Regions from separate parts of the Homo sapiens genome. Here region 2 is linked to region 1. Evidence: fine-mapped expression QTL. Tissue or cell type: whole blood. Region 1 holds a variant in brackets; the other region holds the start of a gene. All regions are shown on one strand. Distances are between the middles of the regions.

Region 1 (8,108 bases):
GCCTGAGAGAGCTGTTGTGAAGAATAAATGATAACATATGAAAAAGGTCCCTAGTACAGAGCCTCACACATAGTAGGTATGCAAGAAATATTGGTTTCCCTCCCTTTATGAAAGATAAGATACTCAGGTATCAAATTATGTACTTGCTGCCGTTATTTTGAATATTATTGGGAGTCCATGCTTTGTTTTTTACATATAGTTTAATTTTCTGCACTTAAATTATGGACAGAGTAAAAAGTATACATGTTCAGGAAGATTAATATGCAAACCCACAAACAATCTCAGAAGTTGAATTTAACAGCTCTACATTATTTTGACTAGGAAAATGGAATTTTTACTCAGCTCATAATCATTTAGACTGAGTCCATTAGTCACTTCATTTTTCACTGAAAACTAGTTTGCTGTGATTGGTTGGACTCTGATTAGAAATGTTACGCACCCACATCTGGTCTGGCACCTTATTCTAAGTAATAAGGTGGTTTGGAAGCCACCTTATTCTAAGTAATGAACAAGTCCCAGAAAGGATATCATAAAGGAATTCTGTCTCTCGTTCGGTGCCATTGATTAAACCAGATCGAGGGAAACAGTGACAGAAAACAAACTCCTTTTGAAGCACTCTAGACACTGGCTGTCAAAGTCCCTGAATTTCTAGGCACAATGCAACTACAAATGATGACCCAGGCACATGGCCAGATGGGAAGAGTCCTCAGTGCAGAAACACAGTGTACACAAAAGTCACTTCACACCCTGTCCTCTAATGGATGTTGCGATCCACGTTGAGAGTCCTGAATAGGAGGGAAGGTGGACTCCAGAAGAGCCAATGTGTCCAATTCATGATCTGGCTTGCCCAAGGTCATGCAGATAGAAAATACTGTCAAGGTAAAGACTAAAACATGGGTGTCTCAGCTGTAAGTCAAATAAATGCTGTCTCTATTCCTCTGTCATACATCAGTACTCAGGACCCTCTGACTCCAGTATTATTTCCTCCATTCTTAAGGCCTTTCTTCTGGGAATCATTCTGGGTGACTGCTGGGATCCTAGATCAGGTAAGAATATGACTGAGTCACAATCCTTGCACCTCTTGCTATCAACCTGTCTTGATGACTTTGAAACGTGTCAATAAGAACAGTAATGACTCGGGAGTCTGATCAGTAAATGCTTGTGGATTTTCCTATTTATTTATTTATTTTTTGCTTTAAGTTCCGGGATACGTGTGCAGAACGTGCAGGTTTGTTACATGTGCCACGTATGGTTTGCTGCACCTATCAACCTGCTACCTAGACAAGGATGAAGCTTGTGGATTTTCTTGTGATCCAAATGACCTCCCTATAGAAAGTGATTTTTTTTTCCGACGATAATTTATAGTCCATCTCCTTTTCTCTTTTGGCTGTTCTTTTTTTGTACTGGTATCTGCCAGACAGTATGCTAGGTATTTGTCGTATATTATCTCATTTATCTCATATAATCCTTCTGAGAATTCATTACAGACTAACAACATCCCATCTTTTAATCATGAAAAATCTTGTCCTAGTTTAGTAAATCTTCTACACTAGGGTTGTTTTTTAAGGCTATTTGACATGTTTTACTAATCTGTATCATCTGTCTTTTTGTCTAAAATGCAATATAGACTAGTGGTTAAGGCTTTGGAACCAGACTATCATGGCTCTACCACTTATTAGTTGTATGACCTTGGGCAAGATGCTTACACTGCCTGTTCCTCTGTTTCTGCATAGTTAGAATGGGTTATGATAGCACCTTACTTCAGGAGGTTTTTGTGAGGATTAAATGAAATAATAATAATAGCTGTAATGTTTTTTTTGTTTGAGACGGAGTTTCACTCTTGTTGCCTAGGCTGGAGGGCAATGGCGCAATCTCCTCTCACGGCAACCTCCGCCTCCCGGGTTCAAATGATTCTCCTGCCTCAGCCTCCCGAGTAGCTGGGATTACAGGCATGCGCCACCACACCCAGCTAATTTTGTATTTTTAGTAGAGATGGGTATCTCCATGTTGGTCAGGCTGGTCTCAAACTCCCAACCTCAGGTGATCCACCCGCCTCAGCCTCCCAAAGTGCTGGGATTACAGGCGTGAGCCACCTCTCCCAGCCACAGCTGTAAAATGTTTAGAAGATTGTCTGGCAGAGAGTAGACATTCAGTAAACAAGACAGTTTAAACTTGCATTTTGGCCACTACTTTAAATATATATACAAAAATAAGTGTTACGAATTTTAAAAACTCGGATATGTTAAAAACTCCCTTTAAATGTATATATTAGCCTTTGGAAGACCTCTTGAGTTAATTTATTTTTTGAGAAGGAGTTTCGCTCTTGTCGCCTAGGCTGGAGTGCAATGGCACGACTTCGGCTCACTGTAAACCTCCACCTCCTGGGTTGAAGCAATTCTCCTGCCTCAGGTGCCCGCCACCACTTCCGGCTATTTTTTATTATGATTATTATTATTATTATTATTATTATTTTTAGTAGAGACAGGGTTTCACCGTGTTAGCCAGGCTGGTCTCAAACTCCTGACCTCAGGTGATCCTCCCTCCTCGGCCTTCCAAAGTGCTGGGATTACAGGCATGAGCCACCACGCCCGGCCTTGAGCTATCTTTTCACATTAGTAATCCTTTCAAAATGATGCACAAATGGAGCCAAAATCAAATGCTCTACCAGAGCACCATCTATCAGTTATCTACTGCTACCCAACAAATTTGGTACTCCCAAACTTTGCAGTTGGGTACAGCAAACATCTATTATTTCACTGTTTCTGTGGGTAAGAAATCCGGGAGCAGATTTGCTGTGTATTTCTGACTTCGGGTCTCCCATGAGGCTTCTATCAAGGTGTCAGCCAGGCTGCAGTCATCTCCAGGCCCAACTGGGGGAGAGTCTGCTCCTGAGTTCACTCCTGTGGACCTCTCCACATGGCTGCCTCACAACATGGCAGCTGGCTTCTCCTAAAATAAGCATCCAAGAGGGAAAGAGCAAAAGCACTCAAGATGAAAGCTAGTCTTTTTATAACCATCTTAGAAGTGACAGCCCAGCACTCAGCTCTTTTCTATCCCTTAGCGTTGAGTTACTAAATCCAGCTCATGCTCAAGGGGAGGGGATTACACAGGATGAACACCAGGACAAAGGGATTATTGGGGGCCATCCTACTGGCTGCCTACAACAGATGGATGCATTGAATGGTCGTTGGAGCCAAAGATGAGGCCTATCTGAAAGGCATGGGTTACTTCAGAGAAACTTAGGTGAATCTAAAATGTAGTCCTTCATAAAAAACCATTTCCTGTTGATTCCTTTAATCAGTATTTACAGAACCCACTCTATACCAGCCTCTGCAGGGAATAAAAGGATGCATAAGAGAAGGAGCTGTCCCCAGGGGAGCTCATTTTCTTTGCCCCTTTCCTCATTTAGGAAATGCCTTTCCTGAGGCTCAAATTTTTGGGAGAGAGAAAGGGGGAGAGAGGAAGTGTGGGAGAAGTGTCCAATATGTGAGATGCAGGCTCCATCTCACAGGATCACAGGGAAAAGTGGAAACGGCAATCAGGCATGCCCTGGAAGTAGCTGTTGAAAATGTAAAACTCTAAAATCCCAGAGTATGTGGCCAATCATTCATTCCTTCATTCTTTCATTCATTCCTTCTACAAATGTGTATTGAGCTTCTTCTACGAACTCTATAATTCTAGCCTTTGAGGATACAACAATGAAGCTGACACAATTCCTACCCATGAAAAGCTTATCTGCTTGCAGATGGTGATGAGCAAGACACAGGTACATAATGTTAGGCACTGGTAAGTGTTATTGAGGGAGAAAAAAAAGAAGAAGAAGCAAGGAAAATGTTATTTGAATATGGTGATCAAAGAAGGCTTTATGGGGAAATGATTTTTTTTAGCAGAGACCTAATTTGAGAATAGAAAAAAATATATGAATATCTGAGTGCTTAGTGTTTGGAGAGCCACAAGGGCCCAGTGTGGTTGGAGAGGGTGAAAAGGAAGAGAGCTTTCTGGAACAGATCTGGTAGATCTTATAGACAGGGAAAAGAGGGTGACAGGAGCCACTGGAAGCGTTTAAGCAGGGATGTGAGGTGATCTCATTTACATTTCAGAAAGCTCACACTGGATGCTGTGGACTGAGATAGAGCTAGACCCGTGCAATCAACACACTGCCATTCTTTGATAATAGCTCCTGTATTTGTTTGCCAGGGACGCCATAATAAAGTACCACAAACCCAGTGGCTTAAATAGCAGAAATTTATTGTCTCACAGTTCTTAAGGTCAGAAATCCAAGATCAAGGTGCCTGCCAGGCCATGCCCTCTCTGAAGGCACTAAAGAAGGATCTGTTCCAAGGCTCTCTCCTGGCCTCTGTAGTCCTTGGCTGCAGCAGCATAACTGTCATCTTCACATGGCATTCTCCCTGTGTGTGTTTCTGTGTCTAAGATTCTCCTTTCTATAAGGACACCAGTTATATTTAATTAGGGGCCCACCCTACACCAGTATGACCTAGTCTTGACTAATTACATCTGCAACCACCCCATTTCCCAATAAGGTCACATTTTGAGGTACCAGAGTTTAGCACTTCAACATATGCATTTGAAGGGGACACAATTAAATCCATAACAGCTCTCTTTCTTATATCCTCATGTTATTAGAGTGCATGCTGAACGATACAAATACTTCAGCAGAGATTACTAGGGAACGGGTGCAGCATGGGAAGAGGAAAGTGAGCCAGAGAGA[C/T]GCTATACTTAGGGACAGATGTGTCCACAGCCTGTCTCTGTCCTGCTCAACCTCAGGGGGTGTAAACAAAGGCCAAACTTTTCTAGAAATTCAAGTATATGCTGATAGAAACAATACCACTTCCACCCATGTATTTGTCATCTTCTTAGGCCATCAGCCCCAAGTGAATTACCCTTTTTTTTTCTCACCCTATGTGTCAGAATCACACGTCTTCCCGCCAGGAGAGGAAAGCTCCTAGGTACTTCTGTGTAGGTAAGCTCATTAGGAAAAAGCAACCTATTTAAGTGAATTAATGAAACACTTCTGGATTCTGTGCAAATTAGGCCTGCGTAATATGAAGAAGGGAGAAAAAAATGTGCTGTGGTTTTATAGAGAGGTGGGAAATGCCCTCAGCATTTATTATACTTAATGATGAGATATTGTTGCTAGGTGGTTTGAAGGATAAAGTTTACATTAATAATATGTGATGCAATGAATCTACATTAGTGTGAAAAATTATTTTATTTACCTTTATGCAGCCTATCTGGTCCACTCATTACGTAGTTTATTTTGCAATGTCCTTAAAATACTGGACATAATCCCATTTATAAATTCCTGCCTCAAAGATGACATTGAGTGGATATTTAGGAGGGGCATCCAGGAAAGGGGGAGTGGACAAACCCTAAATTAATAATCCTGGAATGATACATTGAATGCTGCACTATCAGTTTGAAGCTGTTGGGTGGAAAGATGCAAATGAAAATCTGTTGTGTCCTCTTGGGACTTCTCAGCACAGCCCAAAATACAATTAAAATTGTGCAAGAGGCCTAAGTTGAACTTTTGTAATCATATGGCAAGTTATTTTTACAACAATTAGCAGTTTCAAAGTTCTTAATACGTTATAAGTACATATAGTTTTTCCAAAGTAATTTTGCAATACAACTGCTGGGGAAGTGGAAAGAGCACAGGAATGAAAATAAGGCAAACCAGATTCTAGTTCTTGATTCTTCCACTAATGAGTCAAGAGGCTCTGGGTGGAACCCCCAACCTCTCTAAGGCTCGGTTTTCTCATCTGTAGAATGAAGACATCAAGCCCACTTCCAGTTCTAACGTCCTATTATTCTGCATGAAGACATTCAATAAATATTTGGCCATGATACATCTTCATGGAATCAAATTTGTAAATGGGACAGAGAACTGAGGCTCAAACAAAAGTAGGTGGACAACTTTGAAGGGCATAAATCTTGCATCATTCTCTTCTTAATATCTCCACTTCTTTCACCTTAGTCCCAGTCAATCTCATGTCACCTGGATGATTGCAAGAGCCCCTAACTGGCATCCCTGCTTCCCTTCCCACCCCCCTCTAATCTTTTGATTATATAATTTCATTTCATTTTTTAGAACTCTCCAACACCTCCCATTTATTTAATGAATTTGTGGAGTACTTAACCCATGGCACAGGTGCTGCAAATACATGGTTAACAAAACAGACAATTCTCTGCTTTTATAGAGCCTACTTTATATTGGAAAGAACAGGGAGATAGACAGTAAATGAATATACATTACATAATATAAGGAAGTGATAAATACAATGAAAAAATCAAAGCAAAGGAAGGAGAGTATATGAGCAAAGTGCTGCTTTAGATATGCTAGTCAAGGAAAGCCTCTCTTGGCGTAAGATGAGTTAGAGAGCTAATCTTCAACCAGATCATCTTGGTCCAGGATGACCTTGTAGGTCATCTTTCCATTACCTTGTAGGTAATGGAAAGGACTTAAGATTTTATGTTTTGAAAAACCAGTGGCGAGTCTGAAGCAGTGGTATGGTTTGGATGTGGTTTGTTGCAGCCATGACTCATGCTGAAGTTTAATTGCCAGTGTGGCTGCATTAGAAGGTGGAACCTAGTGGGAGATGTTTTCATCATGGGAGTGGATCCCTCATGGATCCCTCATGAACAGAATAATGCCCTTCCTTGGTGGTGAGTGAGTTCTTGCTCTCTCGAAAATGGATTAGTTACCATGAGAGCAGGTTATTAAAAAGAGTCTGGCTTCCTTGATTTCATTCTCTTGCTTTCTTTCTCACCATGTGATCTCTGCCTAATCTTGGGCTTTCCACCCACCAGAATCATGAGCCAAATAAATATCTTTTCTTTATCTATTACCCAGGTTCGGGTATTTTGTTCTAGCAACACAAAATTGACTAAAACAAGCAGAAAAGAGAAATGATCAGATACGCCTTATTAAAGAAACACTGTGGATTCTTGGTGGAAGTTTTACTACAGAGAGACAGGAGTGGAAGCAGAGAGACCATGAAAGTACTATTAGGTAACACAGGCGAAAAATGTTGGTGGCTCACATTAGCATGATATCAAGGGATGTGTAAGAAATATTGGGATTTCAGATGTATTTTGAAGTTACTGCTGGCCTAGCTTATGGCTTGAATGTAAAGTGACAATGGGAGGAAAAATCATTATGTGAGGTGTCAACATTTTTGGCTTAAGCAACTCTGTGCACGGTGTTATACATACACGGTTAAGGATGAGCAGCTGATTTGGGAAGGAAGGTAAGAAATCAGTTATTCAGTTCTAGACACATTAAGCTTAAGGTGCTCATTAGATATTAAACCGATATCAGGTAAGCAGTTGGGTCTGAGTCTGGAGTTTGGGGAAAAGTTGGAGCATGAGAAAAACATCTGGAAATGAGTAGTATATTTGAAGCCATGAGACTAAATGATATCATCTCAGCAAATGAGTATAGGAGAGGCAGCAAGCTAATACCTGAGCCTTGGGGCTCTCCAGTGTTTAGAGTTTGGGTAGAAAAGAATACTCCAGCAATGGGGCTAAATCATAGGAGACTATCTACAAACATTCCCCACCACACCTACTAGTCTACTTGCACCAATATCCTTATCTCCTCTTGCTGTGTGAACTGGGCCTGTGCTCTTCTCCAAAGCCCACCAGTTCACCTACCCACAGAATCTTATTTCTTTTCCTGTGCTCAAATACATCGCTTCAGCAATTATCCCCTCTCAATTATGCAAATTCAAACTTCATTTATCTATCAGACCCTTCCATCAGGATACAGATATCCTTCTTAAAAAATAAATACACAAAAAGGGAAAGCTCCTTTCCTCTTGTATTTACCTTCAGCTACTGTTCATTTTCTGATCTCCTAGAAAGCAACACTCCTCAAAACAGCTGACCAAAGTTGCTACTGTTAATTCCTCTTCTTCTATTCTCTTTTGAACCCACTCTGATCTGAATTTTGACCTTAACACTTCACAAAACCTTCACCAAAAACTTCCACATTGCCAAATCCAGAAGTCAACTCTCTGCAACATTTAAATCGCTGATCACCCTCTTCCTTCTTGAGATCATTGTTTCACTTAGTTCTCAAAACATCA
Region 2 (8,101 bases), 400 kb before region 1:
GAGAAACCCTGTCTCTACTAAAAGTACAAAAATTAGCCAGGTATGATGGTGGGCGCCTGTAATCCCAGCTATTCGGGAGGCCGAGGCAGGAGAATCGCTTGAACCCGGGAGGCGGAGGTTGCAGTGAGCCAAGATCGCACCATTGCACTCCAGCCTAGGTGACAAGAGTAAGACTCTGGCTCAAAAAAAAAAAAAAAAAAAAAAAAAGAAAAAAGCAGATCTTTTTTCATGTGACTCTTATGCCTGTTACAAGTAATGCTGGCAAATCCTTCCTGATCTTTTCACCACCAGAAAGACAGGATAGAAAGGCAGAGAGGGATGGAGGGAGAGCAAGAGGGTTAACATAGCTTGTTCATTTATTTACTCACCAAACTAATATTTATTGTTTGTCATGTGACAGGCACCAAGGTTGGTTCTGGGAATTTGAAGATGAATGAGTTACCACCCTTGCCTTCAAGGTGTTTCAGTCTAGCAGGGAGAACGATGTTTAAACCAGTAATTAAGCTTGATACAGCAATTATTTTAATGCTGAGCCACAGCTCTGAACAGAAGGGGCGCAGATGTGGAGACACAAGCTCATCCTTTTATTGAGTTCCCTAATAAAGAGCAAGATGCTTAACTCTGTTGATCTCTAGCTTCTTCATTAAAATGGGTGGGAGAGCATCTTCTCACTTGCAGACAGTGCATGTAAAGTGCCCAGAAGAGTGCTTGACACATAGTGGGCATTCAGCAAATGGTAGAGTGTGGATGTACTACAGGGGCTATGAAGGACTCAAGGGCAGTAGGACCATAGGAGGGGTCCTGAAGTCACACGTCAGATATGCAAGAAAGAACTTCTTGCACACCGCAAGAACACTAGGTACCAGGATTAGCAAGGAGTTGCCACTGATGAGTTGGTCCCTATTTCCCAACTTGCCTTCACTAGGTGGAACATTTCCTTTAAGGTTGCAAAGGGAGGTCAGTGCGATAGCTCACACCTGTAATCCCTGCACTTTCAGAGACCAAGGTGGGCGGATCACTTGAGTTCAGGAGTTCGAGACCAGCCTGGCCAACATGGTGAAACCCCCATCTCTACTAAAAATACAAAAATTAGCCGGGTGTGATGGTGCATGCCTGTAGTCCCAGCTACTCGGGAGGCTGAGGCAGGAGAATCGCTTGAACCCAGCAGGTGGAGGTTGCAGTGAGCGGAGATCGTGCCACTGCACTCCAGCCTGGGTGACAGGGCCCTGTTCCCTGCACTGGACCCCACTCCCTCTCCCTTGTCCTCCCCAGCCTCTGCCTCCTGCTCTCACTTACTGCTCTGATGACCAGCCAGGGCAGGCCTGGAGGCCGAGGTCAGTGGTTTGTTGGGACAAGGGCTGGTTCCCAAAAAGCCCCACAAAAATTAACCAGGTGTGGTGGTTTGTGCCTGTAGTCCCAGCTACTCAGGAGGCTGAGGCCGGAGAATAGCTTGAACCCGGGAGGCGGATGTTGAAGTGAGTCGAGATCTGCTGCACTCCAGCCTGGCTGACAGAGTGAGACTCTGTCTCAAAAAAAAAAAAAAAAAAATTGTAAAGGGAAAAGACTGTAATTTTTTCCTTTAGTAAGGATAACTCAGGTGAGAAGCCCATTGCATTTTTATTGCACCAATTTCTGACACTTAAATGTCTTTCACGAGTCACCTATTGGCACTTAGCTCCTTGTTTACGTGAAGAATCCCGTGTCTCCACTAAACTCCTTCCCTTCTAGGCCTTCCATATATTTTCCTGTTGCCTTTCTATCAACTCTGTGGTTTACTATATTTGAGAAGCATTATGTTTTGAAGTCATATATTATATACAGAGAAGTGAAATAGAATATTTGGTCGTTGTTGCCACTTGTTAATGAAAAGTGGCTACTATTGGGTAATATTTATTGAGCTCTAATTATCAGGCACCACACATTCTATGCATTGTATCAGTGCTTCTTGGCTTTTGATGGAAATACATGGGATATGGAGATCTTAAAATTCAGGTTCTGGTTCATTCAGTATGAGAGTAGAGGCCAAACGTCTACAGTGCTGACAAGTTCAAGGGTGATGCTGCTGTCCACAGGCTGCATTTTGAATAGCAAGACATTGTACCATTTGATCCTGACAACAACCCTATTAGTTAGAAATTACTTCTTATGGCCAGGCACGGCGGCTAACGCCTGTAATCCTAGCATTTTGGGAGGCCGAGGCGGGCGGATCACGAGGTCAGAAGATCTAGACCATTCTGGCTAACACGGTGAAACCCTGTCTGTACTAAAAATACAAAAAAAATTAGCCGGGCGTGGCGGCCGGCGCCTGTAGTCCTAGCTACTTGGGAGGCTGAGGTAGGAGAATGGCGTGAACCCGGGAAGTGGAGCTTGCAGTGAGCTGAGATCGCGCCACTGCACTCCAGCCTGAGCGACAGAGCGAGACTCCGTCCACCCCCCACAAAAAAAAAAAAAAATTTCTTATTTCGTATCTATGGAAACTGAACTGTAGAGAATTTATCCAAGGTCATGTTGCTAGAAAGCAGTACAGCTCGGGCTCTAAATCCAGATTTGCGTCCTGGGATAGTGTATATAATGTGGATTTTGGAAATATTCTCCAACATCCAAAGGTGATCTGATGCTACCTGAAAAAAATTCATAGTTTTAGTTTAAATTTTGACCCGTTTAATGAAATTTCTTTTTAATTTCTCTTTATGAAAGACTGTGTTAAATGGTGATTCAAATGTGTTGGATTTTGCTTCTAAAGGTATGTAGAGATTAGTATGATTTATTTGCCAAAATTATGGCCTAGAAAATGTCGTGCTATTGATGGAATCCGCATTGAACACAAGAGGAAATTGCTAGGGAAGGATGCGTGTGAGGAAAGGAAATCCTCAGGCTGATTTATTGTTCAGCGCTGAGTGTAAACAGTGTGCTATCCTTGTCACAGCCAAACGAAAAAGGACGCAATCACTATCCTGAACAGATCATTCTTTTAAAAATAATATTTTGGCCTGCTTATAAAGCATGGTTCGTAATAAAAAATTTGGGCTACAGAAATATAATACAATTAAATTATCCAAACTCCCATCTTTTTGTTTGTTTGTTTGTTTGTTTTTTGAGACAGAGTCTGGCTCTGTCGTCCAGGCTGGAGTGCAGTGGCTGGATCTCAGCTCACCGCAACCTCCGCCTCATGGGTTCAAGCGATTCTCCTACCTCAGCCTCCCGAGCAGCTGGGACTACAGGTGCGTGCCACCACGCCCGGCCAATTTTTTGTATTTTTAGTAGAGACGGGTTTTCACCGTGTTAGCCAGGATGGTCTCGATCTCCTGACCTCGTGATCCGCCCGCCTCGGCCTCCCAAAGTGCTGGGATTACAGGCGTGAGCCACCGCGCCCGGCCTATTTTCTAATTTTAAGTGAATGCATCTCAAAAGGGTGACGAAGGACCACATTCCTATCGAACAGCAATAATTCACTGTGGCAATATCTTGCCACAAATAATTTAAACATTAATTGTGGTTTTGAGGGGCAGTGTGCAGTGGGAGTAAAAGGGGTAGGGTTTAGAGTCTCCAAAAGATTTACTTAAGAAACACGAATGCACTGCTTGTGCACTGCGCAAAAGTTCTGGGGTCAAGTTCCAACTTTCACTAAGGATCCCAGAACAGCCCGGCAGGAGCTGCCCAGGGCTAACGCGCTTTGCTCTCAAACCCGGCCGCCAGTCGCCGACGCATGCGCAGTCTAGCACCGTGGCACAGGCCTTTCTCAAGCAGGTTTTTGTGGGGTCAGCAAAAGGGCCAGAACAGCAACGGCAAACAGTTCCGAGCCTGACAGTGCAGGGGCAAACCAGCTCCAAGTGAAAATCACCTCGCGAGGAAATAGGCTCAGGGATCGGGGCGGTTTCCGCAGGCGTCTCCACACACGCACTCTCACTCACTTTGAGGGTGCCAAAACACCACTAGGGGCAACTAGGAGGAATAGGCTGAGGAATCAGCTATAGAGAATGGAGGGGATAGAGCTGCAAGGGGCGAGGGGGCGACGATCTCTAAAACTTTCAGCGCCGTGCTCTACTGATGCTCTAGGCACTTTTTTCATTGCTCTGGGGAGTCTGGGTGCCCCAATTAATCCGTCGCTCCTTTGAGCATTTGTTGTTTAGGGGGTCCTGGGGGACCCCATCGTATTACAGTATTCAGCCACACTCCCCGCAAAGCCGGGAAGCCGCCCCGAGAGAAGACCCCAGGACGCCGGGGGCTGCGTGAGCCCCGCAAGGCTGCAGGCGGGGGCGCGGGATCCCCTTTCTGGCCGCCGCCCCCCTCCGCCGGCCCCTCCCCCGCGCCCCGCCCTCGGCCACAGACCCCAGCCCCGGCCGCCGGCGCGCTCCCACCCGCGCGTCTGGGGACTTGCGGACCGCAGCGAGACCGGCCGGCGTGCTGGGCATGCTCAGTGGCGGGCCGGGCGCTGGAGTCGGAAGCCTGTGCGCGGCAGCCGCCGCCGAGCCGGCCGGGGCGCACGGAGAGCGCGCGGGACTCGCTGCAGCGGCGGCCGGGTCGCGGCGCACCCGGGCCGGGACCGGAGCCGAGCCTAGCGCGGCGCCCGCGACCCGTCAGCCGCGGCTCCTGCTCCCTCGATCCCGCGCGGGGAAAGGGCCGGCGGCTGTTGGCGTCGGCGGGGCGCGGAGGAACCGCGGCGGCGGCGGCGGCGGCCGCATCCTTGCCGCCCGCCCCGGCCCAGCCGCGTCCCGGAGCCGTCGGGCATGGAGCCGTGGAAGCAGTGCGCGCAGTGGCTCATCCATTGCAAGGTGCTGCCCACCAACCACCGGGTGACCTGGGACTCGGCTCAGGTGTTCGACCTTGCGCAGACCCTCCGCGATGGAGTCCTGCTCTGCCAGCTGCTTAACAACCTCCGGGCGCACTCCATCAACCTGAAGGAGATCAACCTGAGGCCGCAGATGTCCCAGGTGAGGAGGCCGGCACGGGCGCCCCGCCTCCAGCCGGCAGCTCCCATTAATCATGCGGCTAATTTCTTTGTGTAAATGCAAACGTCTAGGTGCGCTGAGCTTGCCCTGCTTCCCAGCCTTCTGCTTTGGGACCACTTCGGCACCACTTTGGCGTTTCCTACCTTGGCTTGAAATGGTTTAGCTCCTCAAGCTGAATGCGAAAGCTTTGCGTCCGGAGATGGTGTGAGGATTTCGTAAAGGCTTTCTGTGAGGCGGGAAAGAAATAAGTTGTCTTAGGGTGCCCTTCACCTACTCTGCGTGTGTGTGGCGCGACAAAGGGAATTTGATCAAGCTCTTCTATAATAACGAAGGGGAGGGACGAAACGAGGTGATGGGGTAATTTGCCTTTAGTCTCTTCTTTTGCTTTGCGTCTTGTACTCATGTTTTCCTAAAAGAGGAACCATGACATACATGAGGACTCGAGGAAGTGAAGGGCGTTTGGTCCCGTTATCTGTCCAGGAGTGACATTGGTCAAAGGGAAGAACAGGGAGCAGAACCCGGAGGCCGCCCCCAGGGCCCCTGAGCTGGTGGCCAGCCGGCAAGCTCCCGTTTACAGCTCTTCCTAAGCCATGTGAGAAGGAGCGAGTCCAGCCTCTCTCAGCAGCGACAGGAAATGAGAAGTTTCACTAGAGATTCCGCTTTCCTTCCTGCAGTGCCCTGCTCAGGTGCTGTGGTGCCGGTCGGCTCCTGGGGCTGGAGCTGCCTCTTTGAGGGTTAAGCCAGACACCTCTGGAAGGTTGGGTGCACCCTAGAGTCAGCTCAAAAGTCACAGTTCAGTGGAAGAGTAGTTTATTTGTCCTGTCGGAAAATTTTTGTACAGAAGGATGTTAAACTCGGTTCAGAGCCTCTTTCTCTTTCAGAATGTTAAAACAAAACAAAAAACCAAACTGCTTTCAACTTAAAAGGGAGAGGACAGAGCCCTCTCCCTGACACATTTCAGCACTAATCCTCTATGACGCAGAGCCTCAGCTACTTAGCAACCAGAGCAGCGCCTTTTAAGAAGGAACGGACTTTATATGATTTAATAAGTATGTATTTAAAGTTAGAGCACACACAGTCATCTGTGATTCTTGGTGTCAGTGTTTCATCAGGGTCCCCTGCACTTCAGATTCTGCATTCCTTGCCTGTTTGCCTTCAACCTGCTGGTGGGCAGTCCCTAAGAAAGAACAGGCATGGAAGTGGGGAGAGCCATACGTATTTAAAAGTGAGGTAAATTATTTTATACCCCCATAAACATGCATGGTGATTGCTACCTCTCGGTACCCCTTCAGAGTTGTCTCAACTCTGGAAATTCCTTTGAGGGGTTTGGCAGACTTTTCTATTATGGTGGGAGCTGCAGTTAGCTACTCTCACACATCCCCATTTTCCACTTTGCCTGTAGCCTCAGGAGGCAGCGTGGGTCAGGATGCCTTGGCCCACCAGTAGGGAGTACAGTACTGTGCACATTTCCTGGAACTTGTTTCCTGGAACTCTCAGCAGTTGCTCTCAATAATCACGTTTTCTGGACAGCTGAAGACCTTTTTAAACCTCGAAGCCTTTATTTGAATGCTAACAATGGATGAGAATCGTTTTGAATGTGTTTCACTCTTCTCCTCTTATGTTAGATGTAATTTAATCTTTCTGATGACCAAAGATTGTCATTATAAGCATCATTAATGAAAATTGAGCACATACAATGCTCTAAGAGTTCTGTTCCCTAGTGGGGGTAGCAAAATGAGCACACCAGGATACTTGCCCTAAAGGAATTATTACACTATGCTATCAGATGGTAAATCACTGGGTTATAATAAGGTAAGTAGGACAGCTAATGACCTTCTTTGTGCCGTTGCACTTTTGAGTTCTTAAGTCTGTTCAACCTTGAGGTTTCTGGTTCCAAATTAAGTACAGTTTCTCCTGTAATGTCCTATGAGAGGGTGCTTCCCTCAAATGTGAATCCTAGAAGGCTAGTACCTGAGCCTGGTGATGTCTGTTTTTGCTTTCCTCATGGTTCTTGGCCTCATTGCAGAGAGGCAAGGCTGCTGAACAAGTGGATGCTAGGCCGATGAGTTTGTATCATGCAGGTTGTCATTAAATCCTTTAATGAGACTTATGAAATGATTTTATGAAACAACTTGACGTATTTAACATGCTTATAGTGCCTAGCACATGTACTTAATAAATGTTTACTATTAGCAAAATTATGAAAAACATTTTTTCTGCTATTGTTATATTAAGAGTAATAGGTTCCAATAGAAATTTTAAAACAATTGTAGAGGCCTACCGGTTCCTTTGGGCTGATAACCCTAGACATTTTGCCGCTAACTACTCATCTCTTTCTTGGGAAAGGTTCTAGCTGTAGTGAATACACTATTAACCTGGTACAACCCTGTCATGTCCCAGCAGAATGTATTCCCCTGGAGTTAGAGATGTCATTACTAGTACTTGTGGCGTTTTGGTATGTCTGAGAGTCGTTCTGTCTACTTAGATTCTGTTGAAGATATTAATTTGAAATAGACTATTTTTTATAGCACATGATCTCCTAACCTGAGAAATAACTGGAAGCTGTCACTTCTGACTTTTGTGACATATTGAGACTGTAAAGAGCAGATGTTGACAAAAGAAATTTTAATTTATTGATGTTTTGTTTGTAGCCTGTTTAGCTTTCCTGAAAGAGGCTATAAAATGACCAGCCTTTTAAAATGAGTGTTTATTCCAGTGAGTGGGATGCCTTTCTATTCTCTGTTAGCCTTCTGCCTTGTTTGCATTTAAAAAAATAAATAACTGCAAATAATGACTGCTCAATTATAGGTTTGAATCTTGGAATCTTAATAAGTTAGTTGATTATCTTTCAAAATAAAAGCATGGATGGGATCCCAGTTTTCTTACTTATTGTTCTTTCTGGCTGTTGACATCAGTTTGTTTTTGATCTTGCCATCTTGGTAAGAGGATGATCTTCAGTTCAAAAATAAGTATATTTTTTCATGCTGATTTAGTGTTTGTTTTTATTTATGATAGGTTAAAGAGGTAAACATTAATCATATTTAGTTATACATTTAACATGTTCCTCTTATTATATAATACAGTTAAATAAAATGCAGTTGGCCAGTGAATATCTAAGAAATTTGGTGTCTGTATATGTTAGATTTTAGTGT

Evidence for each region. PIP is the estimated chance that this variant, and not a neighbour inherited with it, causes the effect.
Region 2: VAV3 starts here. The variant in region 1 is fine-mapped to the expression of VAV3 in whole blood (INTERVAL, PIP 0.96).

Annotation. Positions count from the first base shown.
Region 1 is chr1:107,558,525-107,566,632 of GRCh38, reverse strand. No RefSeq gene overlaps it. Among named protein-coding and RNA genes, the nearest start is that of MIR7852, 330 kb to the left of the region's middle. The variant C/T (reference allele first, on the strand shown) is at 4,730.
Region 2 is chr1:107,961,496-107,969,596 of GRCh38, reverse strand. VAV3 (vav guanine nucleotide exchange factor 3) reads left to right here and starts at 4,417. Exons shown (of 27, transcript NM_006113.5): 1 at 4,417-4,931. The coding sequence starts at 4,728. VAV3-AS1 (VAV3 antisense RNA 1) reads right to left here and starts at 5,154. Exons shown (of 3, transcript NR_046653.1): 1 at 5,093-5,154. RefSeq lists enhancers at 3,631-3,700, 3,636-3,930, 5,277-5,406.